7 linked regions of the Homo sapiens genome follow. The protein of the gene in region 1 purifies or fractionates together with the protein of each later gene. This does not show direct contact. Each region holds a gene or a part of one and is shown on either strand. Other genes may lie near its edges. The genes, in order: CELA3A, PIK3C2A, RAB18, CNTNAP3, TARS2, NFXL1 and TIMP3.

Region 1 (4,027 bases):
CAGCAAAGATATAGAACATTCCCATGATTATGGGAAGTTTTATCGGAGAGGGTCAGCAGGCTTATTCTGTAAATGGCCAGAGAGTGAATATTTTAGGTTATTTGATGGTTTGGATAGTAATGACTTGACTGTGCCATGGTAGCATGAAAGCAGACACAAACAATACAGAAATGAATGTGACTATTTCCAGGACATCTTTATTACAAAAACAGACCAGAAGCCTGATGTGCCCCACTGTCCACAGTTTGCTAACCCTGGTCTAGATGGAGCTTTTGAAAATCAGAATGTGTAGGAAATGGGAAGAGAGGCAAAGAACTCATCAGGGTGAGCTGTGCTTCAGAAGGCTCAAGAGGCCTTGAAAGAGCTGAGGTTCAAAAGAGTCAGGGGGGCTGGGCGCGGTGGCTCACGCCTGTAATCCCAGCACTTCGGGAGGCCGAGGTGGGCAGATCACCTGAGGTGAGGAGCTCGAGACCAGCCTGGCCAACATGGTGAAACTCCGTGTCTACTAAAAATACAAAATTAGCCAGGCACGACGGCAGGTGCCTGTAATCCCGGTTACTGTGGAGGCTGAGACAGGAGAATCGCTTGAACCCGGGAGGCGGAGGTTGAAATGAGCTGAGATTGCCACCATTGCACTCCAGCCTGGGGAACAAGAGCAAAACTCCATCTCAAAAAAAAAAAAAACTCACAGGGCGAGGGGTGCGTGATAGAACAGAGGGCCTTCAAGGGCTGTTAAGAGACAGAAGGTAGAGAATGTTGGGGTCCCCAGGGAGGTCATAGTGCTGGTGTGGGGAGGCTTTGGAGAATCAGAATGTGACCCCCATGGAAAAGTGATAGGGCCACCACGGGCAGCTGCCCAGGTCGCAGGTTGTATGCTGCATATTTCAGTGGGTGCTCTCGTTTTCCATGTGAATGGCGCCCTCTAGAGTTGCACAGTGCACAACCTATACAGCCATTGGTGGCAACTCTCATGGTGGGGCCCAGCCCACTGAGGCCCTTTCCTCCTGGGCCACCAGGTTTCCCTGCAGTATGAGAAAAGTGGAAGCTTCTACCACACGTGTGGCGGTAGCCTCATCGCCCCCGATTGGGTTGTGACTGCCGGCCACTGCATCTCGTGAGTTCTCTACCCTGTCCCTGCCTGTGGCCCTGGGCAGCGGGGGAGAGTGGGTGATGATGGGGAAGGAGGGAGGTGAGCCAGTCAGGCCCCGACTGACCTCACCTCTGCCTGCAGGAGGGATCTGACCTACCAGGTGGTGTTGGGTGAGTACAACCTTGCTGTGAAGGAGGGCCCCGAGCAGGTGATCCCCATCAACTCTGAGGAGCTGTTTGTGCATCCACTCTGGAACCGCTCGTGTGTGGCCTGTGGGTGAGTGAATGCTCCGGTCTGGAACCCAGGGGCTCCTCTACTTGTCCCTCCATGACCCACAGCCAAGTCTGAGTAGGCTCCAACTCTGAGTAGGGACGTAGGGACATAGGGACATAGGGACAGGGGAGCTGAGTCCAGCAGCCTGTGCCCAGGTCCCACACACTGAGGATTGAAGCCAGCAGAGCCTTTAAGGACCATCACCACCAAACCTGTCTCCCTACAGAGGGGATGGCAGTGTTCAGGGAGGGGCAGGAACTCTGCCAAGGCCACTTGGCTAGTGGCTTCAGAGCTCAGGGTTCCTCTGGCATCCTTCCCCCATATCCGAGGGTTTCTCCATTCAATAGATGGCTCACCCAGTGCATCCTGGGCTCCCAGCACTATGGGCAAAAGGAGGAGCACTGGGCTGAGAGTCAGGCTCTGGCATTAACTCTGTGTATGGCCTGAGCAAGTCACTGGCCTTCTCTGGGCCTTAGTTTTGCCATTTGTCAAAAGGTGACCATGAAGTTGGGCTTCCTGGGTGGTGTGAAGGCCAAGGAGACAATCTTATGCCTTTCAAGTGTATGAAAAAATCTTAACAAATATTAGCCAGGCGTGGTGGCATGAGCCTGTAATCCCAGCTACTGGAAAGGCTGAGGCAGGAGAATCACTTGAACTCGGGAGGCGGAGGCTGCAGTGAGCCAAGATCATGCCACTGCACTCCAGCCTGGGCAACAGAGCGAGACTCTGACTCAAAAATAAATAAATGAATAAATAAAATTCCTCAGCCTTAAGAACGATTTGGGCCAGGTATAGTGGCTCATGCCTGTAATTCCAGCACTTCAGGAGGTGAAAGCAGGAGGATCCCTTGGCCCAGGAGGCTGCAGTGAGCTATGATTGTGACACTGCACTCCAGCCTGGGCAACAGACCGAGACTCTGTCTCAATAATAATAATAATAATAATAATAATGATGATGAAAGAGTGGATTTGGAGGGTAAAGAAGTTGGGGCATCTCAGAGGTGGAATAGCCTGGAGCAACGGCTAGAAGGTAGGACTTGGGCCGGCTGGAGGACCAGGCCCCGTGACTGTTCCCTCCTCCCCAGCAATGACATCGCCCTCATCAAGCTCTCACGCAGCGCCCAGCTGGGAGATGCCGTCCAGCTCGCCTCACTCCCTCCCGCTGGTGACATCCTTCCCAACAAGACACCCTGCTACATCACCGGCTGGGGCCGTCTCTATAGTACGTGCTGACTTCTCTAGCTGGCCACAGAGACAGTGGCAGAAAGACAGGGCCTGGGGGCTGCAGGTTGAAGGTAACACCAAGACCGGACCTTGTACTTTTCTCCCATTTCTCTCCAGCTGCAGCCTTCTTCCATCAACCTCCAAAACACGAATGTGGTCAATTGCACATGTTTTGGTATCTTCTGTGTGCCACGTGCTAGGGATGTAATGGTGCACAAAGCATGCAGGACCATTTAGCGGGTGGGAGGAGAGTCCTCATCAGGGCAGAAGAACTGTGGGCCTTGAATGCCCCCTTCCTCTGGGGCACCTAGCGGTGTGCCCCCAGACCCCTGACTCGGTGCTTTTTATCCTTGCAGCCAATGGGCCACTCCCAGACAAGCTGCAGCAGGCCCGGCTGCCCGTGGTGGACTATAAGCACTGCTCCAGGTGGAACTGGTGGGGTTCCACCGTGAAGAAAACCATGGTGTGTGCTGGAGGGTACATCCGCTCCGGCTGCAACGTGAGTCAGCTCTTACCTGCCCGAGGTGGTGCTGGGTGTGCAGGACCTTGGAATGGGGCCAACTGCCTGGAAGGTGGAGGAAGGATCTTGCCTGCTTGCCCCATTCAGCCTCCAGGCCAGGCAGGACTTGGAGGAAATCAGCGCAGTCCAGACACAGAGCCCAGGCCTGGGAGTCAGGACCCCCGGGTTGCAGTCTCAGCTCACACACTGACATGACTTGGGACAAGTCACTGTGTCTCCCTGGTCCTCAGGCTTCCGCATCAGCACAGCAGGAGATACTGGTCCCATGACCTCTAACGCAGGTCAATTCTGTGGTTCTAAAGTTATAATTAACCATTAAGAATACCATCATTGTTCTGGGCACAGTCCCTCCTGCCTATAATCCAAGTGCTTTGGGAGGCTGAGGTGGGAGGATTGCTTGAGGCTAGGAGTTTGAGACCAGCCTAGGTAATATAGTGAGATGCCCATCTACAGAAAAACTTTTTTTACTTAGTCAGGCATGGTGGCACTCGCCTGTAGTCCCAACTACTTGATAGGCTGAGGTGGGAGGATTGTTTGAGCCTGGGAGTTCAAGCTCACAGTGGCTATGATTTTTGCCACTGCACCCAAGCCTGGCGACACAGCAAGACGTTGTCTCTTTTTTTTTTTTTTTTGAGACAGGATCTTGCTCTGTTGCCCAGGCTGGAGTGCAGTAATGCCATCATAGCCCACTGTAGCCTTGCCCTCCTGGGCTCAAGCAACCCTCCAATGTCAGCCTCCCAAGCAGCCAGGAGTACAAGTGTGTGCCACAATGCCTAGCTAATTTTTAAATTTTTTGTAGAGATGAGGTCTCACCATGTTGCCCAGGCTGGTCTCTAACTCTTGGGCTCAAGTAATCCTCCTGCCTTGGCCTTCCAAAGTGTTATGTTTACAGATGTGAGCCACTTTCCTGGCCAAGACCTT
Region 2 (3,983 bases), on another chromosome or scaffold:
AGCTCCATGAATAGCAGCTGGATTTTACGGTAACATCCTGCATTTTTCCTTTACTTTGGTGTTTGTGAACATTACACAGTGGTAAAGGCTATAAAAGGTGCATAACAGGAAAACACATATGCTTTGCCTCCTTATAGAAAACAATGCAAAATAGGTGGCTGAACTGACATAGTACTGTCTCAAAGTCTTTTTCAGGAATTAGTATATATTAAGTTTAGGGTTTGTAGCATTCTACATAATGACTTTAAAACAGCAATGGCTTCCAAAAATTCAAAAAGGTTAGTTATGTGACTGTTGGTCCAACAGATGTGTTGAAATGCAGCAAGTATATTTAACTTTATAAGTTCTGTCCAAGTATAAAAATACTATACAAAATTAACAAGTGTGTGTGTGTGTGTCTGTGTGTGTGTGCATGTATGCATGCACGTTTATAACTGTTCATGCTTCCAAAGCTCAAACATTCACTAGTTTACAAGTATGTTGCCGCAGTCAGCTGATACCATTTAACCGTCTCTTTGCTCAAGTTGAAATCTTTCAAAGGCAGGGTTACTCCACCCAAGAAAAAATTCTCCCGCAGAGATTCTGCACTGAGTACACTTAGTTGAAGTTCTCGCTGTCTTAGGGTTTCTTTGCTATATCCACTGTATACAAGCTACAACAAAGGAAAAAAGAACAGTAAATCACAAATTAAAGTTTGTTTGGTTTCTTGGAACATTTCAAGTGAAAACGTGAGAATATTAGCCAAAGAGTGACCACAATGAGTGACACTGATTATGACACATCCGGTAGGTTTTGTCTGAATACTTTAGAAGGACATTTTGTGTTTCAGGAGTCTTGGATTGTACTATCATTCCTGTGATGTCTGACATAGAGAGATACAAAGCAAGACTAATCATTAGCTAAAAAATAAAAACTAGAGGCCAGGCATGGTGGCTCACGCCTGTAATCCCAGCACTTTGGGAGGCTGAGGCGGGTAGATCACCTGAGGTTGGGAGTTTACAACTAGCCTGACCAACATGGAGAAACCTGTCTCTACTAAAAATACAAAATCAGCCAGGCGTGGTGGCACATGCCTGTAATCCCAGCTACTCAGGAGGCTGAGGCAGGAGAATCACTTGAACTCAGGAGGCGGAGGTTGCAGTGAGCCAACATGGCTCTATTGCACTCTAGCCTGGGTAACAACAGCGAAACTCTGCCTCTAAAAATAAATAAAATAATATAATAATAATAATCATCTAAGAGGTGGAGTGATCTAAGACAAACTGAATAGTCTGGAAGTAATTAAGCACAGACTAGACAACCACTTTTTGTGACTATTATAGAGGGGGGTTCACACACTGGAAACGTAGTTGAATTATGGCTCCTAAGGTCTATGAGGGCTCTATTTTATATCATTTTGTTAAATACTATTGGACTGTTATTGGTGTACACTGTATAACAAATAGTTCAGCAACTGATACCTAAAAACTTAAAATTTTTTTTTTTTTGGGACAGGGTCTCTCACTCTGTTGCCCAGTCTGGAGTGCAGTGGCATGATCATGACTCACTGTGGCCTTGACCTCCTGGGCTCAAGCAATCCTTTGACCTCAGCCTCCCGAGGAGCTGGGATTACAGGTGCGTGCCACCATGCCTAGCTAATTTTTTTCTTTTTTTTTTTTTGTAGAGATGGAATTTCATCATGTTGCCCAGGCTGGTCTCAAACTCCTGAGCTCAAGGGATGTATCCACCTCGGCCTCCCAAATTGCTAGGATTACAGGCATGAGCCACTGCGCCTGGCCTTAAAATGTTTTAAAATTTAAAATCTCAAAACAATGGACACAGAGAAGGGGACAACACACACTGGGGCCTGTTGGGGGATGGGATGGTGGGAGGGAGAGCATTAGGAAAAATAGCTAATGCATGCTGGGCTTAATACCTAGGTGATAGGTTGATAGGTATGCAGACCACAATGGTACGTTTAGCTATGTAACAAACTTGCACATCCTGCTTACGCACGTCAGAACTTAAAAATGAAAATTAAAAAAATAATAAACCAAGGAAACTTCTAGAAATGATTTTAACTTACCATTTCATTGAATGTCGGATTCCTCGTTTTTCGTGAAATTTTGGTTTTACGTTTGGATGTTTTGTGGTTATCTGGAAGTAGGTATGTTTTGACATATGGATTTGGGTCAGCTCCATCTTCAGTAACCTAAAAAGAAAAGCAGTCCCTTAATAGTAATGCTTCCTACCAAGGTAAGGGTTTCCTCTACAACCATCATTCTTTGTAATCACTCACAAGATCTTTGATATGCATCACCATGATGAAAAGAGTACCATTTCGGTAAGAGATGGATAATTTCACAGCTCCTCCTATTTGGCCTGGAGTAGGACTGAAGGAACCTGCATCTGAAAATACAAATATTTTCATCTTTATTTACTGGTTGTAGTGGTTCAAGCTGCAATAAAAGGATTTTGCTTTATTTTCAAGACTGTCACATGTGGTGCGGACAGAAGGGAGGGGAAAAAGGAGTAAACAACCTGATAGGTCATTGATTTATACTTCTTTAGTAATCACATCTATTAGGAAAGTTATATTTATTCAGAAATAGACTGGCTTAGAAAGAATACTCTCCTCCCATTCTCAGACTACAGCTAGTAAGCCTGCTGTCATTCTACCACATTCATCGAGAAGTTACAGACTTGCAGATCATGAGTTACCAATAAAGAGAAAAAAAATAATCTCACCTGCAGACCTAGCTATCCCTTCAGCTTTCTCATCACGAAGTAAAGGGTGGAAGAAAGTACAAACAAGATCACACTAAGAATAAAGAGAAAGCAATTCATTAGTTTAAATATTATGTAACACAAAAGGTATAAGATGTTATTACTTCTCATTTAGTAAGGTTACCTCTGCTACATCCGTTGAAGCATTCATCAAACTCTGTAAGTAACTGTTTAACTCAATTTTCCTTTTGGCTGCTACATCTTTTATGTGTGTTCTTCCTAGAACCATCCTATTAGGAAAGCTACAAAAGAAAAACAAAAACAAGTGGGATTTAAATAAGTACAATATTTCCTTAGAAATACACTTTTTCATATATACTTAAAGACAAAGTAGTCTTAATCCATTATAAAGTAATATTTTGTGGCCGGGCACGGTGGCTCATGGCCTTTGGGAGGCCAAGGCGGGTGGATCACTTGAGGTCAGGAGTTTGAAACCAGGTTGGCCAACATGATAAAACCCTGTCTCTACTAAAAATACAAAAATTAGCGTGCTGATGCCTATAATCAGATACCTATAATCCCAGCTACTCGGAAGGCTGAGGCAGAAAAATCACTTGAACCTGGGAAGCGGAAGTTGCAGTGAGCCGAGATCACTTACACTCCAGCCTGGGTGACAGAGCAAGTCTCCGTCTCAAAATAAAATAAGTAATTTTTTGTGATTTCTCTTCAAAGTATTGGAGATGACATCGTTCAGTCACCCATTATCCTTTTATGAGCCTTGGTTGAAAAGGTGTATGTGTTGATTTCCTATATTTATTATTAGCTTGGTGCAAAAGTAACTGTGGTTTTTGACATTAAAAGTAATGGCAAAAAACGCAATTACTTTTGTACCTACTTAATACTTATTTTCTAATATTTCTTCTCAAGTTTAATCACTCATAAATATTTTATCCAGATCTGATCCCTAAAAAATAAAATCACTACTCAATCAGCCATAAATATTACATATACCAGTAAAATCCACAAATAATAACATAAGGCCTAAGTAAGGTGCTGAAAGGATAATCTTAATTCCACTTATTTTGGTGGCAGTGGAAAAATGAAACTGTACACGGAAACAAACTCTAATACCCACTTCACCTCATCCTCACTTTTGAAATCTAGTCTGAAGAAAATATGAAAAAACTCGACACAGGAAATCTACTGGTCATTGAGCTACATTAAAACTGAAGACTCCCAAAGGGTATCAGATACAAAACTAAGATTTTGATTGACAG
Region 3 (4,027 bases), on another chromosome or scaffold:
AGAAATAGGTTTTTGAATATCAACTAGCCATTATGGAAGCCGTAAGATACAGATATTCATCAACATTACACAAGCTACAGTTAAGGTACCTGGACAAACACTACCAACATTTATGAAAAAAGATGTTGGTTTTAAAAGTGTATGAGGAGTTACAATAAACACACTATTCATGTCCTCCTGAAACCAAAATGGGGGAAAACCTTATTGTCATTCTGCCAAACACCACATAACTAAAAATGCTGCACAGTCATGAATCCAATGTACATATCACAGGATTAAAACTCCAGTTAAGCAACTGAGCTAATCATTGAAGTAAATTAAAAATACCAAGCTTCTTTAACCTATCAATGCTGTTTTAGAAGCATCATCCGAACAAATAGAGATTTAGTTATAAATTGGCCTGGGCTACATTCTGTGATGAGAATTTTGCTTAGTACTAAAAAAGAATCTCAAACATCCCAGAAAAGCTGTGGAATCATGCTCTTTATTATTCCTGAAAGAAAATTTGCCACGTTTGATGATACCTCTATTCTTCCCCGTGGTGCTAGGAGTTCTAAATACCAAGTAATTCAGAAAATGATAGGAGTATTTAAGCAAAAAGAATAGCAAAAGCAGACTTTGTATCAACATATCCTAGATAGATGGATTTTTTTAAAAATTACATGATAAATGTAAATCATAAAATTGAATGTACTTATAAAGGTACACCTATTTTGTGCTACATAAAAAAACTGTAGACTGCAAACTGTGCATGCTTACCATAACATTTTACCCGGGGTCGATGAGTGGGATTTCTTGCAAATATTTACTGCTATGATATAAAACAATTATGTGCAAACTGCAAGGTCCCTAAAATAGCAGTTAAAGAGTTTATATACAGAAAGATGTCACTATCTGATCAAATATGCAAGAGATGGAATTTCCCAGAGTTTATAACACAGAGCAATAACCACCACAGGCTCCTCCTCCTTGGCCTTCTTCCCTGTGTGACAGTTTGACTCCTTTATTCTGGTTCTCACTTTCCCACAGTCCAGGGGTCTGAATGATCTTTTCAACAAGTTCTTCAAAGGCACATTGTACACCATCACAGGTTTTTGCACTTGCCTCTGAAATTCAAGGAAAAAGGTCATTCATAGTATATTCCTTTCTGGCCATATTCTCATGTTTTTCTGGGAAACTATCAGGGCATAAATATCAGCCTACAATATATTAAGATCCAAATCAGCAATTTTTCCCCAAAGGTCAATAACTAGTGAATTTCCAAATCTCAAAATTGAGCTAATTAAATTCTATCCATAAGAATACTAGTATATAATTTTATACCAAAAAAACACTGGTTTATAATCTTAAAACTGTGATAGAATTGTAACTTGTAAAGCCCTACTTAAATAGCGAGCGAAAGTTTTTTCCTTAAGCTTTCAGTTAACTCTTACAACTTGCTCCCAAGGCAGATATTATTCCTATTTTAAAATAAAGAAATTCATACAAGTTAAACAATTAATCTGATTATTCTGTGCCTTCAACCAAGCAGCTCCAGGCAGCTGGACAAAATGACAAACCACCATGAAAACTGGTCCCACAGCAAATGTTTGCTCATGAAACTCAACTGGACACTCAGCACTGCTTCCAACCCTGCGTTTCCTTAGTGATGATCTTTCTCACCGTCTGAGATGAGTACTTTATTCCTTCCTCTCAAAACTCTATCGCAGCTAATAATCTAGCTGCATTATGCTGAGAAAATCAGAAGCAATCTGGCAAGAACTGCCTGATCATCCCACTAATAAATTTACCAAGCTACCTGCATATGTATCCTCATGCTCTGCTTTCCCTCCTGTGAGAATGGATAAACTGTCCCTGCTGCTATCCAAGCCATCGCCTTCTTTTGTTCCTGGAGTCCCATCCCTTCTCATTCACCGAAGGACCAAACGCTCTCTCTACTGGATCATACCAATCAGCCTAAAAGTCTGCCGAATTATTTTCCATCCTATTAAAAAACAAACTTGCTCTCTAGGCCACATGCCCTTCTTGTAGCCACCCATTTCTCCACTCTCTTTGAAACCTCTTCTAAAGAGTTATCCACATAAGCTGTTTCTACCTTCTTATCTCACGTTCTTTCTTCAAACTACTCTAATTAGGCTTTCATTCCCACCACTCCACTGAAATCATTCTTTTCCAAGACCACCAACACCCTTTATCTTGTCAAATCCAATATCCTAATTTTATTTGACATCTTTGGTATCTGATACTGCTAATCACTTCCTCTTCTTTTAAACAAGTTGTTCCCTTGACTTCCAGGACACTGAACATGCCTGAAAATCCTCTGAGCCCACTGACATGTCATGTGCAGCCTTGTTTGCTGGCACTTCCTCTTTCTGCTGACCTCTAATTGCTGGAATCCCCCAGGGTTCAATCTTCTGCCATTTTCTTTGTTTTGTTTTGTTTTTGAGACAGGGTCTCACTCTGTCACCTAGGCTGGAGTGCAGTGGGAGCTCCACTGCAGCCCTGGCCTCCCAGGCTCAAGTGATCCTCCCACCTCAGCCTCCAGAACAGCTGGAATCACAGGCACATGCCACTATACACAGCTGATTTTATTTGGAGATGAGGTCTCACTATGTTGCCCAGGCTTCTTCAGCCCTTTTCTATCCACGTTCTTTCCTGAAGTCACCACTCTAATCACATGACCTTGAATGCCACCTAAATGCCAATGACCACCATGTCCACCGGTTATCGGAAAAATGTCTCATTCTTATGTCAAAGTGAAATTCTTGATTCCTCACTTCCCTACCCTAAACCTGCTCTTATCTCAATCTTTCACATCCTAATTATTGGCAGCACAATCTACCTCACTGCTCATGCCTAAAACATGGAGTTATCTCTGATTGCTCTCTTTTTTTTTTTTTGAGACAGAGTCTCGCTCTGTCGCCCAGGCTGGAGTGCAGTGGCGTGATCTCGCTCACTGCAAGCTCCGCCTCCCAGGTTCAAGCAATTCTCCTGCCTCAGCCTCCCAAGTAGCTGGGACTACAGGCACCCGCCACCACGCCCGGTGAATTTTTTGTATTTTTAGTAGAGACGGGGTTTCACCGTGTTAGCCATGGTCTCGATCTCCTGACCTCGTAATCCGCCTGCCTCGGCCTCCCAAAGTGCTGAGATTACAGGCGTGAGCCACTGCACCCGCCTGATTGCTCTTTTTAATTATCCTCCATACCCAATCCACCCACAAATCCTGTCAGCTATACCTTCACTGTATCTCCTAGAACTGCCAATTTTCTACCACCCTCTACGGCTACACAGTCAAACCGCTTCTTCCTTCATCTGGGCCACTGCAAGAGAAGAACTAGTCTCTTGCTTCTGTTTCCCCTAGTCCATTTTCTACACAACAGGATCTTTTTAGAGTATCAGGTCACACCGCTGCTTCCCTACTTTCCACCACAATTGGAATACAATCCATCTCTTTACCATTTGAATGGCATCTCTCACCATCTGCCTTCTCCTTAACACACTCTATGCTCCAGTACACACGCTTTCTTCCTGTTCCTTTAACACAGTAGCCTGATTCCCACCTCAGGAAATATTTGCTCCTCTCTCAGCCTGAGATGATCTCCCTCTAGACTAGGGGTGTCCAGTGTTTTGGTTTCCCTGGGCCACATTAGAAGAAGAAGAATAGTCTTGGGCCACAAATAACATACAATAACACTAATGATAGCTGGAACTTAAAAAAAAGCACAAAATCTCATAATGTTTTAAGGAAGTTTACAAATTTGTGTTGGGCCACATTCAAAGCCATCCTGGGCCACATGCAGCCCATGAGTTGGACAAGCTTGCTCTAGATCCTCACCTGAGGGATTTCTGCTCAAATGGGACAGCCTCTAAGAACTTTCCCTAAGCAGTCCCCACTCCAGTCATTCTCTCTCCCCTTATAATGTTTTATTTCCTTCATAGCACTACTTACTTATTTAAGTCTGTCTCCCTTACTAGAATGTAAGCTCCATGTGGGCAGAAAGTTTGTCAGTTTTGTCCACTGTTACAT
Region 4 (4,027 bases), on another chromosome or scaffold:
CTGTTTGCAGATGACATGATTGTATATCTAGAAAACCCCATCGTCTCAGCCCAAAATCTCCTTAACCTGATAAGCAACTTCAGCAAAATCTCAAATTCAAGATTTTGTATCTTGATTTGATACAAAATCAATGTGCAAAAATCACAAGCATTCTTATACACCAATAGCAGACAAACAGAGAGCCAAATCATGAGTGAACTCCCATTCACAATTGCTTCAAAGAGGATAAAATACCTAGGAATCCAACTTACAAGGGATGTGAAGGACCTCTTCAAGGAGAACTACAAACCACTGCTCAAGGAAATAAAAGAGGATACAAACAAACGAAAGAACATTCCATGCTCATGGGTAGGAAGAATCAGTATCATGAAAATGGCCATACTGCCCAAGGTAATTTATAGATTCAATGCCATCCCCATCAAGCTACCAATGACTTTATTCACAGAATTGGAAAAAACTACTTTAAAGTTCATTTGGAACCAAAAAAGAGCCCGCATTGCCAAGTCAATCCTAAGCCAAAAGAACAAACCTGGAGGCATCACACTACCTGACTTCAAACTATACTACAAGGCTACAGTAACCAAAACAGCATGGTACTGGTACCAAAACAGAGATATAGAACAGAACAGAACAGAGCCCTCAGAAATAATGCCGCATATCTACAACTATCTGATCTTTGAGAAACCTGACAAAAATAAGCATTGGGGAAAGGATTCCCTATTTAATAAACGGTGCTGGGAAAACTGGCTAGCCATAAGTAGAAAGCTGAAACTGGATCCCTTCCTTACACCTTATACAAAAATTAATTCAAGATGGATTAAAGACTTAAATGTTAGACCTAAAACCATAAAAACCCTAGAAGAAAACCTAGGCAATACCATTCAGGACACAGTCATGGGCAAGGACTTCATGTCTAAAACACCAAAAGCAATGGCAACTAAAGCCAAAATTGACAAATGGGATCTAATTAAACTAAAGAGCTTCTACAGAGCAAAAGAAACTACAATCAGAGTGAACAGGCAACCTACAGAATGGGAGGAAATTTTTGCAACCTACTCATCTGACAAAGGGCTAATATCCAGAATCTACAATGAACTCAAACAAATTTACAAGAAAAAAACCAACAATCCCATCAAAAAGTGGGCAAAGGATATGAACAGACACTTCTCAAAAGAAGACATCCATGCAGCCAAAAAACACATGAAAAAATGCTCATCACCACTGGCAATCAAATGCAAATCAAAAACCACAATGAGATACCATCTCACACCAGTTAGAATGACAATCATTAAAAAGTCAGGAAACAACAGGTGCTGGAGAGGATGTGGAGAAATAGGAACACTTTTACACTGTTGGTGGGACTGTAAACTAGTACAACCATTGTGGAAGTCGGTGTGGCAATTCCTCAGGGATCTAGAACTAGAAATACCATTTGACCCAGCCATCCCATTACTGGGTATATACCCAAAGGATTATAAATCATGCTGCTATAAAGACACATGCACACGTATGTTTATTGCAGCACTATTCACAATAACAAGACTTGGAACCAACCCAAATGTCAATCAATGATAGACTGGATTAAGAAAATGTGGCACATATACACCATGGAATACTATGCAGCCATAAAAAATGATGAGTTCATGTCCTTTGTAGGGACATGGATGAAGCTGGAAACCATCATTCTCAGCAAACTATCGCAAGGACAAAAAACCAAACACCACATGTTCTCACTCATAGGTGGGAACTGAACAATGAGAACACATGGACACAGGAAGGGGAACATTACACAACGGGGACTGTCGTGGGGTGGGGGTACGGGGGAGGGATAGCATTAGGAGATATACCTAATGCTAAATGACTAGTTAATGGGTGCAGCACACCAACATGGCACATGTATACATATGTAACAAACCTGCACGTTGTGCACATGTACCCTATAACTTAAAGTATAATAATAATAAAATAATAAAAAATTAAAAAGTTCAGTGTTCGAGTTCTCTGTCTCTTGGCCTCTGTGATGCCTGCAGAAACCCAGTCGCAACCCATTCATTCATATTCCTCTCCTTAGAGCCAGGAGTTAGCGCCCCAAGGGCAGTGCTGAATCCCTGGACAGGACTTGGGATAAATGCATTCCCCCTGCTGTCTCTCAGAGGCACAGCTGTGAAACACATTCTACCGGCTTCCTGAGAGCTTCCCAGGGAGTTCATGCCCCAGTTGCTCACAGAAGTGACCAGCTCAATGACACCCCCTTTTGGTGGATTTTTCTTCTCTATTCCATTCTTCCCTCTTTTATGAGCTCACTTTCTAAAAGAGGCTACCTGCACAAACGCCCATCACAGGCTCAGCTGTCTAAGAAAACTCTGGCTGGGAGAGTGGACTTTCCAGAATGGAATGTGGGCAGTATTCTAAAATACTAAATAAAATGCAACAGGAAAATCAAAGGGATGAACGTCACATGGCATAAAGAAGGAGGTAGAGGACATCTGCCTAGCCTTCCAAGAACAAAACAAATTGACAATCAACCCTGGCCACCCAGGAGATGAGCTTTGTCACAGCAATTCTTCCTCATATCCCAGAAAAGAGAAGAAGAAATGAGGACAGTAGAATCAACTGTGACATCCAAAAAAGGCTGCCCAATCTCTTCTCTAGAATGTGTCAACTGTGATTTATGAAATAACATATGCTATTTTTATATTGCAATGTTTGCTTATCTATAGGTAAGAGCTCACTATTTCTTATATCATGTTATAATTATATTCATGAAGAAGATGACCATTGCACAGACAAGTACACTGTGAAGAACCGTGAGGAGAGATTTTACCCTACTTGCAAGCTAACAAATGAGTCTGCCAGTTTGTTTCATCGTTGCGGCAGAAGACTCCTGGGTCAAAGCAAAGGACTGTATTACTTACAGCATAGCAAACAATATGAGCATCAGCATATTTGCATCAATTTCCTTGCCTCCAAGTCCTCTGGGGGAATATGGATGGGCACAGATGGATGTGTGCACACGCAGTGGGTTACATGACAAGTGAGGAGCCCTGAGCTTAGGGAATTCAAAGTTTTCTACGGGCAGCAGGCATTGCTTGCCCTTTGGCAACACTGCTGAAATAAATCTCTTATGGTTCAAGATGTATTGATAAGCATGTTAAGCTTATTTTTATACATGAAGAACAACAAATTGTTATTTTCTATGGTTATTCACAGTATCTCAAAATCTATGTGATATTTTACTAGCTTAGTTTTATTATAATTTTAAAAGACCATTTGGGTTCCTTTGTTAGTGGACAAGAATAAAAAGAGATAAATTAGTTACTTTCTTAAAGCTAAGCAACATCATTTTCTATTGAGGAACCCAAAACTTTCCTAACTTTTACAAATGTTTGTAAATTGTAGGTTCTGTGACAGCCTGTGCTATAAAATTTCATAAGCTTATAAGAGCTTTCTTAACACAGCTGTGGACTTTTCTCCTGGTGTTGTACAGCAGTTCAAATTAGCTCAAGAATCATAAACCCTATATTTGAACAGCTATATAATATTATATATTTATTTTCCCATTTGATGTTGCATTACTTTTTCTACCAATCTTCTTACAATAAATTCATAAATATCTTAATTATAGCAAATGTGAAGTTCTTAAAGATGAGAATCATCAAACATATTTCTATTACAGAGATATATTCTTCAAAAAGTCATCTAAAATAGAAACCCAACTGGGAGACACCTTAAAAGGTTATCTGCCACAACAGAAGCTTTGCTTAAAATACTGTTCTCTTTGTATTTGTGTTAATAATTGATTTGTCTTTGAAATTAAATTAGGAATCTACTATATCTAGTGGTCTTGAAATCAAAGCCCCCTCCCCATTCCTTATCTTCACTGCTGTGTTCAAAAAGACTAGACTCCAGGGACGTGTCCAAAGCTGGGTTAAATATAGGATGCCTGAGAGACACCCTTCTTTCATAGTTCGAGGGTAAGCATGTAGCTGTATGTGTGTGGAGGGGCGGGTGGAGGAGGTTAGCTGTA
Region 5 (4,027 bases), about 130 Mb from region 1:
TCCTTCCACCCTGGATACAATGGCAATGGTGATCCCTTCTATGAAGGCTTCTCAATCCTACCTTAAACCTCTCCAGGAACTTCCCTTTACAACAACTTCTCCCTCCAAATAGACTTCCTCTCATCATAGCATTTATTTTATTTTTCATTTTATTATTATTTTTCTGAGATGGAGCCTCACTCTGTCGCCCAGGCTGGAGTGCAGTGGTGCGACCTCGGCTCACTGCAACCTCCGCCTCCTGGGTTTACAGGTGCCTGTCACCACGCTGGGCTAATTTTTGTATTTTTAGTAGAGACAGGGTCTCAAACCCCTGACCTCAGGTGATCCACCTGCCTCAGCCTCCCAAAGTGCTGGGATTATAGGCGTGAGCCACCGCCCCCAGCCTGTTTTATTTTTACTTTTTGGGACGGAGTCTTGCTCTGTTGCCCAGGCTAGGGTGCAGTGGTGTGATCTTGGCTCACTGCAACTTCCCAGGTTCAGCGATTCTCCTGCCTCAGGCTACTGAGTAGTTGGGACTACAGGTGTGTCCTAACACCTCACCCGGCCAATTTTTATATTTTTAGTAGAGATGGGGTTTCGCCACGTTGGCCAGGCTGGTCTCGAACTCCTGACCTCAAGTGATCCACCCACGTCGGCCTCCCAAAGTGCTGGGATTACAGGCGTGAGCCACCACACAGGCCTCATTTATTCATCTTCTAACTCCACCCTCAGGCCCTACTTTACTGAAAATGGTCCTTTGAAATCCAGCAGCCTTTTTACTAAATCCAGTGGACACTTTTCAGTCCTTTTTTCCCCTTGGCTTCTTTTTTTTTGAGACAGGGTCTCACTCTATCACCCAGGCTGGAGTGCAGTGGGGCGCAATCTCGGCTCACTGCAGCCTCTACCTCCTGGGACCAGGTGATCCTCCCATCTCAGCCTGCTGGGTAGCTGGGACCACAGGCACAAGCTACTGCACCCGGCTAATTTTTTTTTTTTTTTTTGGTAGACACAGGGTCTCCCTGTGTTGCCCAGATTGGTCTGCCATGTGTTTTCATCCTTATCCCCAGCCTCTGCCTACACTGTTCCCTCCTGAAACACATCTTTACTTGGCCAACACTCACCTTTCAGATTGGAAAGTGATTCCTGCAGGACACCTTTTGTAACCTCCCCGAGTAATGCTAACCCCAGCTAACGTGCTCTCTTGGTACCTACACAGCACAGATCTCGCAGCACTGATATGGCCTATTTACCTTCAGCAGCCCTCACTAGATTGCAGATGCCAAGAGGGCAGAAAGTATATTGTTTTTCTTTATATCCTACGTAAGTTTAAAAATATTTCTTTGTGGCCGGGTGCGGTGGCTCACGCCTGTAATCCCAGCACTTTGGGAGGCCAAGTGGGGTGGATTGCCTGAGGTCAGGAGTTCGAGACCAGTCTGGCCAACATGGCGAAACCCCATCTCTATTAAAAATACAAAAAAATTAGCCGGGTGTGGTGGCGTACACCTGTAATCCCAGCTACTCGGGAGGCTGAGGCAGGGGAATTGCTTGAACCAGGGAGCTGGAGGTTGCAGTGAGCTGAGATCACACCACTGCATTTTAGCCTGGGTGACAGAGTGAGACTGTCTCAAAAAAAAAAATTCTTTGTATCTATTAAATATTTACTAAAACAAAGCAAAAAATAAATAAATACAACACTAACCAGGGTCCCAAGCTTACCTTAGGTCCATAGAAGGCACCATCTCCAGAGTTGAGGTCCCAGGGTTCTCCAAATTCCTTCAGGGCCTGTTTAAGGACCTTTGAAGGAATGAGACAAGAGTGGAATACATCATCTTAGACTTCAAAAGCAACACATCCGGTCAGTCCCCAACAAATGACCCACTCACCAGATGCCTCTGAGAACCTTGATTACTGTATTCTCCACTCCTTCCCACCAGAGAGTGGTTTATCTGCCTCTATTTCTCTACCTCCTACTCACCTGTTCGGCCTGGTCCCAAAGGCAAGGGTCCCCCAGGAAGCCAGATGGCCGGGTGGACAGTGCCAGGCGGAAGGAGAAGCCAAGAACGGCATAGACGGAACGGAGGAAATCAAGACAGCTTTGGATCTCTGCTTCCAGCTAGGGGCAGGAAATAAGGGTCAGTGAGCTGTGAGCCCGCTAGAGATCAGGGATGCTGGCAGTTTGAGGAAAACAAAGGGCAAAAACAGAGAGGAAGCGGAAGCAAGCTGGGGGTAGAATGTAGCTGAATTATAGTACATACAGGGGGCAAATAAAGATCAGGGGTTTGCAGGTTCATAGGGAGAAAGAAAGGTGGTTTAGAAAAGCTTTGGTGGAGCCAGGGAAAGGCCACCTGATCTGTTGTACAGAAGATGTGAGCGTCATCCTGCTGGAAGCACCGCAGTCGGGTCAGTCCCCCCAGACCACCAGAGGCTTCGGCCCGGTGTAGAGCCCCAAAGTCAGCTAGTCGCAGGGGCAGTTCCCGCCAGGATCTGGGCCGGTGGGCGAACATCAGGCTGAGGTTGGGGTGCAGAGGGGTCAGGGCCATAGGGAGGACTAGCCCCCGAAGACTGCTCCTCCACCCAATCTGCTTGCCTACTTTCTCTGCACCATCTGCTATAACCCTCTCCAGCCTCAGCACATCCTCCCACTGAGTCCTGTCAATCCCACTCATCACAGTCTGAGCCCTGAGGTTCAAAAGTGGATTTCTCAGTAACACAATAACAGACATCGTTTACCATTTCCCTGTTCTGTGATGGTCACTGAGCTGAAGGAGGAGCCTTAGATAGCAACTTTAAGGAGACTGAGACCTAAAGAGGTAAAATGAGTTTCCCAAATTTACATGGTTAGCTAGGGGGAAGACTGTAGGCTCAAATCGGTGTCCCAATACTCTTTCCAAGGTGCTTTCTTTTTTTTTTTTTTTTTGAGATGGAGTCTCGCTGTGTCACCCAGGCTGGAGTGCAGTGGCGCGATCTCGGCTCACTGCAAGCTCCACCTCCTGGGTTCACGCCATTAGCCTGCCTCAGCCTCCTGAGTAGCTGGGACTACAGGCGCCCGCCACCGTGCCCGGCTAATTTTTTGTATTTTTAGTAGAGACAGGGTTTCTCCATGTTGGTCAGGCTGGTCTCAAACTCCCGACCTCAGGTGATCCGCCCGCCTCGGCCTCCCAAAGTGTTGGGATTACAGGCGTGAGCCACCGTGCCCGGCCCCAAGGTGCTTTCTATTATTTAATATTTAGCAACCTGATTGTAACCCTAGCTCCCAGCTTACCAGTGTGCAGGGCAGTTCATAGGCTTGAGGGCGAGTGTATCTGTGATATGCCTGGTAGAATCGTCACTCTGGGAGCTGGGAGGCCTGTCAGAGCCTGGGGGCTGCACGGCAAACATGTCTTCCTGATAATGCTCCCAGTGCCCTGACTGTTCCCAGAGCTTCGTAGAAAACAGTGTGGGAGTTTTCACCTCGGAGAAACCACGATGGGCATACTCAGCCTGGAGAGGAGGGTACAGACATGGAAGGTCAGAGTAACTGGAAGGAAAGCAGGTAGGGTGTCAGCTGTGTGATCTTCCTGGGCCCTCAGGCCATGCTGATTGCAACCACAACCTATTAAATACCAGGTCCCATCTCTATGCTCCCCGACTGCAGACCACACAATTGTAGTATTAAAGGTCACCAGCACTTTCAATATTTATGTTTATGATTCCAAACCAGCCCCCCCACCTTTTTTTTTCTCTTCAAGACGGAGTCTCACTGTATCACACAGGCTGGAGTGCAGTGGCTCAATCTCAGTTCACTGCAACCTCCCCTTCCTGGGTTCAAGGGATTCTCCTGCCTCAGCCTCCCCAGTAGCTGGGACTACAGGCGCTGCCACCACACTGGCTAATTTTTTGTATTTATTTTAGTAGAGACAGGGTTTTGCCATGTTGGCCAGGCTGGTCTCGAACTCCTGACCTCAGGTGATCTGCACGGCTCAGCCTCCGAAAGTGCTAGGATTATAGATGTGAGCCACTGTGCCCGGCCCCAACCCCCATCTTTTAACACAAACACCTTAGCTTCTTC
Region 6 (4,027 bases), on another chromosome or scaffold:
TGCCACTTCATCTCTTTTCCTGTTCTTCTTCCGACGACCCTTCAGTCTGTTTTCAAAAGCTTCTAGTTCAGCCTAAATAAAAACAGCATCATTTTAATTAAATTCAATGCATACATTGATTTGAAAGTTTCCATTTACATAAAAATCAATTTGGGTAATGTTTTAATAGTAATGATATATAGTCAATATATTGATTTGATTTTTTAAAACACTACTCTCCACTACTGATTGTATTCAACAAATTCAGGGTTTAGGTAAGCAGAAAGGAGACTGGGAGATAACAGAAGAGAATATTTCAAACTGTAGGGCTGACTATGATACTAAATATTAAAATGTCTGATTAGGCCGGGCACGGTGGCTCACGCCTGTAATCCCAGCACTTTGGGAGGCTGAGGCAGGCGGGTCACAAGGTGAGGAAATCAAGACCATCCTGGCTAACATGGTGAAACCCCATCTATACTAAAAATACAAAAAATTAGCCGGGCATGGTGGCGGGTGCCTGTAGTCCCAGCTACTCGGGAGGCTAAGGCAGGAGAATGGCGTGAACCAGGGAGGCAGAGCTTGCAGTGAGCCGAGATGGCGCCACTGTACTCCAGCCTGGGCAACAGAGAGAGACTCCATCTCAAAAAAATAAATAAATAAATAAATAAAATAAAACGTCTTATTAAATCAGGATGCTCTAAAATATAGACACTGGTCTTATACATTGACACCATTATACTTCAACCCAATTATTATAGAACCAGCATTCTATAAAGCTTCTAGCAAGTGCTGTGATGCCTAGTGAGAATGAAGATACCTATAATTCTAGTTGTTTACAATGCATGCAATAAACATTAGTGGCTTTTAAGAAAGAAATTCAAGTGAGTAAAGAGAAAAAAGCTGCCAGAACTCGATTCTTCTCTACCAAATACATTTTTTAAAAATAGTAAAAATTCTTCAAAGGAAAAAATTCTTCATGCTTTAAAATCAAAATGACTATTTTAGACATAAAAATTTTAAACTAGTACTAAAAGACGATAACTGAATTGCATTCAATATCAAATGGGGATTTTTATCCTACTGCTAAGTACTTATTAAACTTTTACACATAATAATGTAATATAATATGCTATAGTGCATAGGTAATTAAGACAATAGTTAAAATATATATGTATTTAATAATATCCACCTAAAACTTTGTAAATGGTTATTTAATAGGAGGAAATGTAAACTTTAGTTCACATATCCATTACTGTGGTCATAAACCACACTTGAAAAAGATCTAATAATAAACTTAGTTTAATACAAAGTGGCATTCTTCAATGAGCCAAAATGTCAGACTACTCCCAAGTGGTTAGTTTCTGACATATAAAAAACGTCAAAATATCTTAAAAGCAGGCAAACTTGAGGACTACAGACACAGTAAAATAACTGACAGTTAAATGGTGACTCACAGTCACCAAGTATATATTATGTGCTGTATACAGTGATCCCTCAGTATCTGTAGGAAATTGGTTCTAGGATCCCCTTGGATATAAAAACCTGAGGATGATCAAGTCTCTACATAAATAGTGGAGGATTTGCAAATAACACACAAACATCTTCTTGTATACTTTAAATCACTCTAGATTTCCTATAACACCTAATAACAATGTAAATGCTATGTAAATAGGTGTTACACTGTATTTTAAAATGCGTATTATTTATTTTTTTTTTTTTTTACTTGTTTTGAAACAAATTTTCGATCTGTGGTTGGTTGAATTCACAGATGCAGAACCTACATATACTAAGGACTGATTATATTCTGTTTAAAGAGTCAGTAAACAGGGAATGTATCTAAGATTTTCATCCATGATGATTTATAAAAAGATAGCAAAGGGAATAAGGAGAAAACATACTAAACTATTCTTAATAACTTAATCTCCTAGGATTCCAGCCAACTTATGTTTTACTATTTAGCTCTGATAACTTATTTTGGGGATATCAGGCAAATCAACTTTACAGAACCATAAAATCTCAAAGGTCACCTTGGCCAACCATTATTTACTACATGAATTGTTTCTAATGTTCCTAATTGTTCTAATTGTTCCTACAACTCATCAAAGTTTGAATTTCCTTATTCATGCAAATCACGCAAGTTTCAATCTCATCATTCATAAAGGCAGTAGCTTAGCACACAATACAATCTGATAAGTATAAAGCATTTCAAGATACAAACTGACAAATAATAATAAAAAGTTATACATCACTATTAGAAAGTCAAGCCACTCTTTCAAGTGTATGATCAATAAAGTAAATACTTAAACAGGGAGTATCAGGAATGTACTTGTTCTCTAGGTAACAACAAAGAACAGGTTATAATCCCGCATTTAAAGATCTAATAGGGAAATATGGGAATATATTATTAAAACAAATGTACTGATTAGTAAACTGCACTTATTTGTTATAGGTGGTCTGCAACTCAGTAAAATAGAACTCAAATACTTTTAGTTAAGTAAAGTCATGGTCTCCAGAAGATGCCTTACAATGGTGATGATTCGCTCACTCTCACTCCCCAGCCAAAGGAGGAATTAAAATTCTTCTGGCTGAAGTATGGATGATATTGGCAAGAAAGTAAATTGGAAATACAAAAAAAAAATTTGGGAATATATGAGATCTCATACCTTTTCAGAGTTTCAGTATACTTAAAGTCAAGTTAGTAGATGGCTCATTTTTGTTTTACAAGAACTGTTATTTTCAGTTCACAATAGAGACTAGACCTTAGTTTGACCTTGGAATATACCCCGTGTTTGCACAAAATCTAGCAATGATGCTAAGAGACATAAATCTGGGTATTTTGTTTGGTTACCTGTTGTCTTCGTTTTTCTTCTTCAAGAGCAGCTTTGGCTTCTGCTTCTTTTATCTGTTTATACACATACAAAAGTCAATTTACAATTTAGTCATCACATTTTATATGGAATTTTAACATCTACCCATCCAGGTTCTATTAACCCATATCAACTTTTAGGAGCTTGAAATCATTTAAAGAAATGTAAATGCTATACTGAGACAAGGTTTTACCAAGGCACTATCTAATAAATTGAAGGTGGTCATGGATGGAGTGTTATACCTTATATGAGCATCTCAGCTTAACAAGTAAAATCGGTATTACATCGTAATTCAAAGAGTTAAAACACTGTAACAGCAAATTTTAAAACTGCCTTTTTTCCTCTTGAGTTGCTGTATTAAGAATCTAGAATTAATTATTAAATACTGCTGTTTCTCTAGAGTTAAATTTATCTTAAATGTGCTATCATGGAAGGGAATCCTTACTTTCAAACAAAATCAAGAGGTCACTGATTGGGTTGATGGAGGGGAAGAGTAACACTAGAGATAACCCAAGCAGCAAAGAATCTCAAAATCTTATAACGGGCATAGAAGATGAAAAGCCTTCATATACACTAGGCAATGAAAATCCCAATCTGCCATTCAAAATAAGCCTATAAAACTAGGCTTTTATTATAAAAGCAAAAAAATGAGATTTCAAGTTGTTTTTAATAAGTACATAAATGCACAAAATAAGAAGGGAAAGGCCACTAGTCTTTAAAATGATATTTAACGAGACATTACCTCAGATGCTTTCCGCTTCATTTCCTTGCACGTTGTGTCACATTCTATTGAAACCTGATTTTCACGTACTTTGTTGCACTGCAATTCCTACAAACAACCCGATTTTCAAATTTTAAATGATTTTTCCCTCAAAGACCTGTCTGCCATAAAAAAGCAAAGTTCATCTGATAGCTTAAGGTTATAAGTATTATTTGATGTCTTAATATTTAATGATGATATAGTTGCAAGCATTAAATATCTGCTTCAAATAGTGATTACTTGCTTATTTTCTCTTAACTTAAAAAAGAGAATACCATAAAATTTTTAAAAATCAACTTAATAATTACTATGTGCCACTATTGGACTTAGCTCCCATGTTGTTTTTATTCTTTACTTTTCTTTATTGTTTGTTATTCTTGCAAAGTGTCCAGGGAATACAATGTTCTACAAATGTGCT
Region 7 (4,027 bases), on another chromosome or scaffold:
TTGACTACACTCTCATCTGCCATCTGAGCTAAGCCAGGAAGGCAGTTAAAGAAAGGCCCCCAAACATGAAGCAGGGACAAGGAGACGGACAGGGGTCAGATGACCCATGATAGGGAAGAGAGGGTGCTGACGGTGTTCAGAATTTCAAATTTTAATTAAAATGAAAAAAAAATGTCAACTTGGAATGTCATGATTTTCTTCAAACAAGCAACGACAACAAAATAGAAGAGATTAAACTATTGGCATATTTAACAGCATTGAACAGAATTCTGTGTCCTGTAAAAAAATTAGCTTATGTCCCCATGTGGGTATATGCAAATGTGTATACAAACATATCCCCCTAGGTGAGCTAAACACTATTCTGGAAATAGTATCCTCTACCCAAATCTACTTGGCTATATCTGTGGATAGTGTATGGTGTGTGTATTTATCCAATTTACATAAAAGAAAGCTCCTGGCCAAATCTACCAAAGCGTTTTCCAGGAGGAAGTCTGGTGGGAGGCAGGGAGAGGAAAGACATTCATCTCAGTCTTTCACCTGAGCTTTTGTACAAGGCAGGCAAATTGCCTCCTGACCTCAGGCAGATGTTTAAGTCTTCACCAACTAAGAAAGCTCTGTTATTCTGGCCTGGGTGCTTGCTCCAGACTCAGGAACATCTGGTCAACACAAGCATCACTGGGCTGGGGAATTGTGTGTGTGCTGCATCATCTCCGACTCTCTTGTAGTTCCTTCCTTCCCTCCCTCACTCTTACATGCAGACACAGACAGACACAGTCTGGTTGGGACATGCAGTGGCAGCTCCTGGTGTATAACATCTTTCACACACCTTGAGTCTATCTGCTTGCTGCCTTTGACTGATCCTGAAATGGTTGGCCTTTCAGCAAGTTCCTTGTCTGTGTCCTTTATGTATTGGAGGAGAAGGGCAAAGGGAAGAGGGTCTGGGAGATGGTGAGGTGGGGAAGAAGCAAGAGGGGTGGGAATTACAATCCTCAAATGGAGTAGTTTTTCATTTTTGTTTTCCTAAAAAAATAGAGATTATATTATCACGAAGAAGAGGAATACAGGTTCCTCATTCTTTCTGGCATGGCACCAGAAATTCCCAGGTGGAAATGAATGATGTCAAAACCAAAAAGAAGGGGCAGGGTGGGGCCAGGAGGATAGTTCCCAATAAACCCCATATGACAGCATAGACCTTTCTTTAAATGTTCCAAGTGCTAAATTTGCAAGAAAACAGGCACTAATTTCATTGTCATCATCTGGGAAGAGTTAGTGTCCAAGGGAAGCTCAGCGGGAAGGGAGGGAAGTGAGGTGGGGCAGGGTCTGGCGCTCAGGGGTCTGTGGCATTGATGATGCTTTTATCCGGGGGGGCCCATCCTCGGTACCAGCTGCAGTAGCCGCCCTTCTGCCGGATGCAGGCGTAGTGTTTGGACTGGTAGCCAGGGTAACCGAAATTGGAGAGCATGTCGGTCCAGAGACACTCGTTCTTGGAAGTCACAAAGCAAGGCAGGTAGTAGCAGGACTTGATCTGCAATTAGATAACAGGCAGCAGTTGATGGACTCTGCCATGGTATGCCCAGGCCTGAGGCTACCGAGCCTGGATTCAGACCCTGGGGCCACTGCATGGGAAGCCTAGCCACATCAGTCCCTCAGTGATCATAATATAAATAGCACTAGCTTGAGCATCTGCTGTCTAACAGACATTCTGATAAGTGCTTTGATATTATTCTCTTTAATTCTTATCACAGTTTTAGGAGGCTCTGAGAGGTTAAGTAACTTGCTGCAGGTCACACAGCCAGTAAGTAGCAGAATTAGACTACTGAGAGGACTTTTTCGTCTCAGGTGGGAGATCTCAGTTGTTTTAGGGAATCGAGGAATTAGAAAGGTTAGAGCATAAACTTTGGAGTCTAGCTGCCCTAGGTTGGAAACCAGATTCAGTGAACTGTGGGACCTAGGGCTAGTTACTTAAGTTCTCTGAGCTCTCATCTGCAGAATGGAGATCATAGTAATTAAAACCACACAGGACTGTTTTGAAGATGAAGTGAGAGAATGGCCCAACTTCCTCCCACAGCAGGCAGGCTGCACCTTGGCCCTATACTTGGGTCAGGGGGATGGGCCTGGTAAAGAGAGACCTTCTGTAGCATCTGGTCTCTGCAGTCCTGGGCCCATTTGCCTACCTGGGGTGGGGTTAGCGATGAGTCAGCTACCAGGGTGAGCCCACTTGAAACCACTTGGGAGAACCTGCCAGTGTCAGGATCCTATACCTCCAGCCTTGAACTGCCAGGTGGGGCCAGGGACTCAAGAGCCCTCATGCCCCAGCAGCTTCCAAGTGGTCATCATGGAGGCAGCCGATTACAGCAGAAAGGCATTCTTCCTTCCCTGCCTTCCTCACTGCCCCACCTGGGGCAACAATCCTTACTATATCTGCTCAGACCTGCCCCTCTGCCCTGGCCTAACACATGCATACCCTTCCCAGCCGAGGGCCTGGCACCCAGTGCATTGGGAGCTGATGTTTCTAGGGCTGCAAGTCAGCACCTCCCCTCCTTCCCCCAGTGACCCCAGAGCTTACCTTGCAGTTACAACCCAGGTGATACCGATAGTTCAGCCCCTTGCGCTGGGAGAGGGTGAGCTGGTCCCACCTCTCCACGAAGTTGCACAGCCCCGTGTACATCTTGCCATCATAGACGCGACCTACAGGAGGAAAGAAGAAAACAAGGAGAGGTTGTTTTGTCCAGAGCCTAGCCCAGAGAGAATTCACACCTACTATGTTCCCACTTAGCCCAGGCACTGTGGCTGGGTACTTTTCAGACCCATGATTTTATTTCACCCTACCCAACACCTTTTAAAATGGACTGTAGCCCCATTTTCCAGATGAGGATAATGAGGCTTGGAGAGGTAAAGTGATTTGCCAAAGGTCCCAAGCCCATTAAATACTGGAGCTAGGACTAGAGGCCAACTCTTCACTCCCTTTATAATGATTTTTGTTTTTGTTTTCTCCTTTACTACACTGACTGCCTAAAGATGAATAACTTTCAAAGACGGGCCTAACAGGTCGAGTGTGAGGTGGAGAGGAACAGATACTCCCTTTTTATTTACAGTAAAGTTGAGAAGCTACAAATTAGGAGATTTCCTCCCCCAGGTGAGTGGTGGAGCTAATTCCAAAGTCCAGCCTAAGTGTAGGAGCCTCAAGCTCCTAGCACTGGGTAAGTGGGATGAATTCAACATTAGAGACTCCTTACAATTTACTGGACATTTGGTGAGTCAACTACTCCGTATGTGTTCTTCTGAAGTCAAGAAACAGTGGACCTTGGCCAAACCCTGGCCTAGAAGCTAGAGTTGGCCATTACCTGTCAGCAGGTACTGGTACTTGTTGACCTCCAGCTTAAGGCCACAGAGACTCTCGGAAGCTTCCGTATGGATGTACTGCACATGGGGCATCTTGGTGAAGCCTCGGTACATCTGTGGGCAAAAGGAACATCATGACTTCTTCTTTCCCAGTTTGGACACCCGTATGATCCCTAATCCCACTGCTGGGTATGTATCCAAAGGAAAGGAAATCGGAATATGGAAGAGGGGTCTGCACTCTCATGTTGACTGCAGCAATATTCACAATAGCCAAGATATGAAATCAACCTAAGTGCCCATCAACAGATGAATGGATAGACAAAACCTGGTATCTATACCCAATGGAATATGATTCATCCAGAAAAAAGAATGAAATCTTGTCATTTGTGGCAATGCAGCTGGAACTGGAGGTCGTTTTGCTAAGCGGAATAAGCCAGGCACAGAAAGACAAATACACCATGTTCTCACTCATGTGGGAGCTAAGAAAGTAAATCTCATAAAGATGGACAGTGGATTGGTGGTTACCAGAGGCAAGAAAGGTAATAAGGATTGGGGCAAAGAGATATAATTAATGGGTACAAAAATACGAGTACGCAGAACAAGTAAGACCCAGTGTTCATTGAATCAGTAGAATGACTACAGTAAACAATAACTTATTGTATATCTCAAAGTAGCTAGTAGAGGA

The links.
Region 2: the proteins of CELA3A (region 1) and PIK3C2A purify together in Homo sapiens (co-immunoprecipitation; one large-scale study listed by IntAct). This does not show direct contact.
Region 3: the proteins of CELA3A (region 1) and RAB18 purify together in Homo sapiens (co-immunoprecipitation; one large-scale study listed by IntAct). This does not show direct contact.
Region 4: the proteins of CELA3A (region 1) and CNTNAP3 purify together in Homo sapiens (affinity purification with mass spectrometry; one large-scale study listed by BioGRID and IntAct). This does not show direct contact.
Region 5: the proteins of CELA3A (region 1) and TARS2 purify together in Homo sapiens (co-immunoprecipitation; one large-scale study listed by IntAct). This does not show direct contact.
Region 6: the proteins of CELA3A (region 1) and NFXL1 purify together in Homo sapiens (affinity purification with mass spectrometry; one large-scale study listed by BioGRID and IntAct). This does not show direct contact.
Region 7: the proteins of CELA3A (region 1) and TIMP3 purify together in Homo sapiens (co-immunoprecipitation; one large-scale study listed by IntAct). This does not show direct contact.

What each region holds. Positions count from the first base shown.
Region 1 is NC_000001.11:22,004,431-22,008,457, forward strand, and holds part of CELA3A (chymotrypsin-like elastase family member 3A preproprotein), read left to right. Parts: intron 1-1,016; coding exon 1,017-1,114; intron 1,115-1,231; coding exon 1,232-1,366; intron 1,367-2,447; coding exon 2,448-2,584; intron 2,585-2,942; coding exon 2,943-3,085; intron 3,086-4,027. UniProt on the Homo sapiens protein: Efficient protease with alanine specificity but only little elastolytic activity.
Region 2 is NC_000011.10:17,089,269-17,093,251, forward strand, and holds part of PIK3C2A (phosphatidylinositol 4-phosphate 3-kinase C2 domain-containing subunit alpha), read right to left. Parts: intron 3,009-3,983; coding exon 2,891-3,008; intron 2,801-2,890; coding exon 2,728-2,800; intron 2,389-2,727; coding exon 2,279-2,388; intron 2,192-2,278; coding exon 2,066-2,191; intron 653-2,065; coding exon 470-652; 3' UTR 1-469.
Region 3 is NC_000010.11:27,534,955-27,538,981, reverse strand, and holds part of RAB18 (ras-related protein Rab-18), read right to left. Parts: intron 1,107-4,027; coding exon 931-1,106; coding exon of another isoform or gene 891-930; 3' UTR 1-890. UniProt on the Homo sapiens protein: The small GTPases Rab are key regulators of intracellular membrane trafficking, from the formation of transport vesicles to their fusion with membranes.
Region 4 is NC_000009.12:39,277,989-39,282,015, forward strand, and holds part of CNTNAP3 (contactin-associated protein-like 3 isoform 1 precursor), read right to left. Parts: intron 1-4,027.
Region 5 is NC_000001.11:150,496,962-150,500,988, reverse strand, and holds part of TARS2 (threonine--tRNA ligase, mitochondrial), read right to left. Parts: intron 3,460-4,027; coding exon 3,242-3,459; intron 2,488-3,241; coding exon 2,325-2,487; intron 2,093-2,324; coding exon 1,955-2,092; intron 1,774-1,954; coding exon 1,696-1,773; intron 1-1,695. UniProt on the Homo sapiens protein: Catalyzes the attachment of threonine to tRNA(Thr) in a two-step reaction: threonine is first activated by ATP to form Thr-AMP and then transferred to the acceptor end of tRNA(Thr). Also edits incorrectly charged tRNA(Thr) via its editing domain.
Region 6 is NC_000004.12:47,848,265-47,852,291, forward strand, and holds part of NFXL1 (NF-X1-type zinc finger protein NFXL1), read right to left. Parts: intron 3,679-4,027; coding exon 3,592-3,678; intron 2,885-3,591; coding exon 2,831-2,884; intron 73-2,830; coding exon 1-72.
Region 7 is NC_000022.11:32,856,678-32,860,704, reverse strand, and holds part of TIMP3 (metalloproteinase inhibitor 3 precursor), read right to left. Parts: intron 3,457-4,027; coding exon 3,345-3,456; intron 2,689-3,344; coding exon 2,567-2,688; intron 1,526-2,566; coding exon 1,328-1,525; 3' UTR 1-1,327.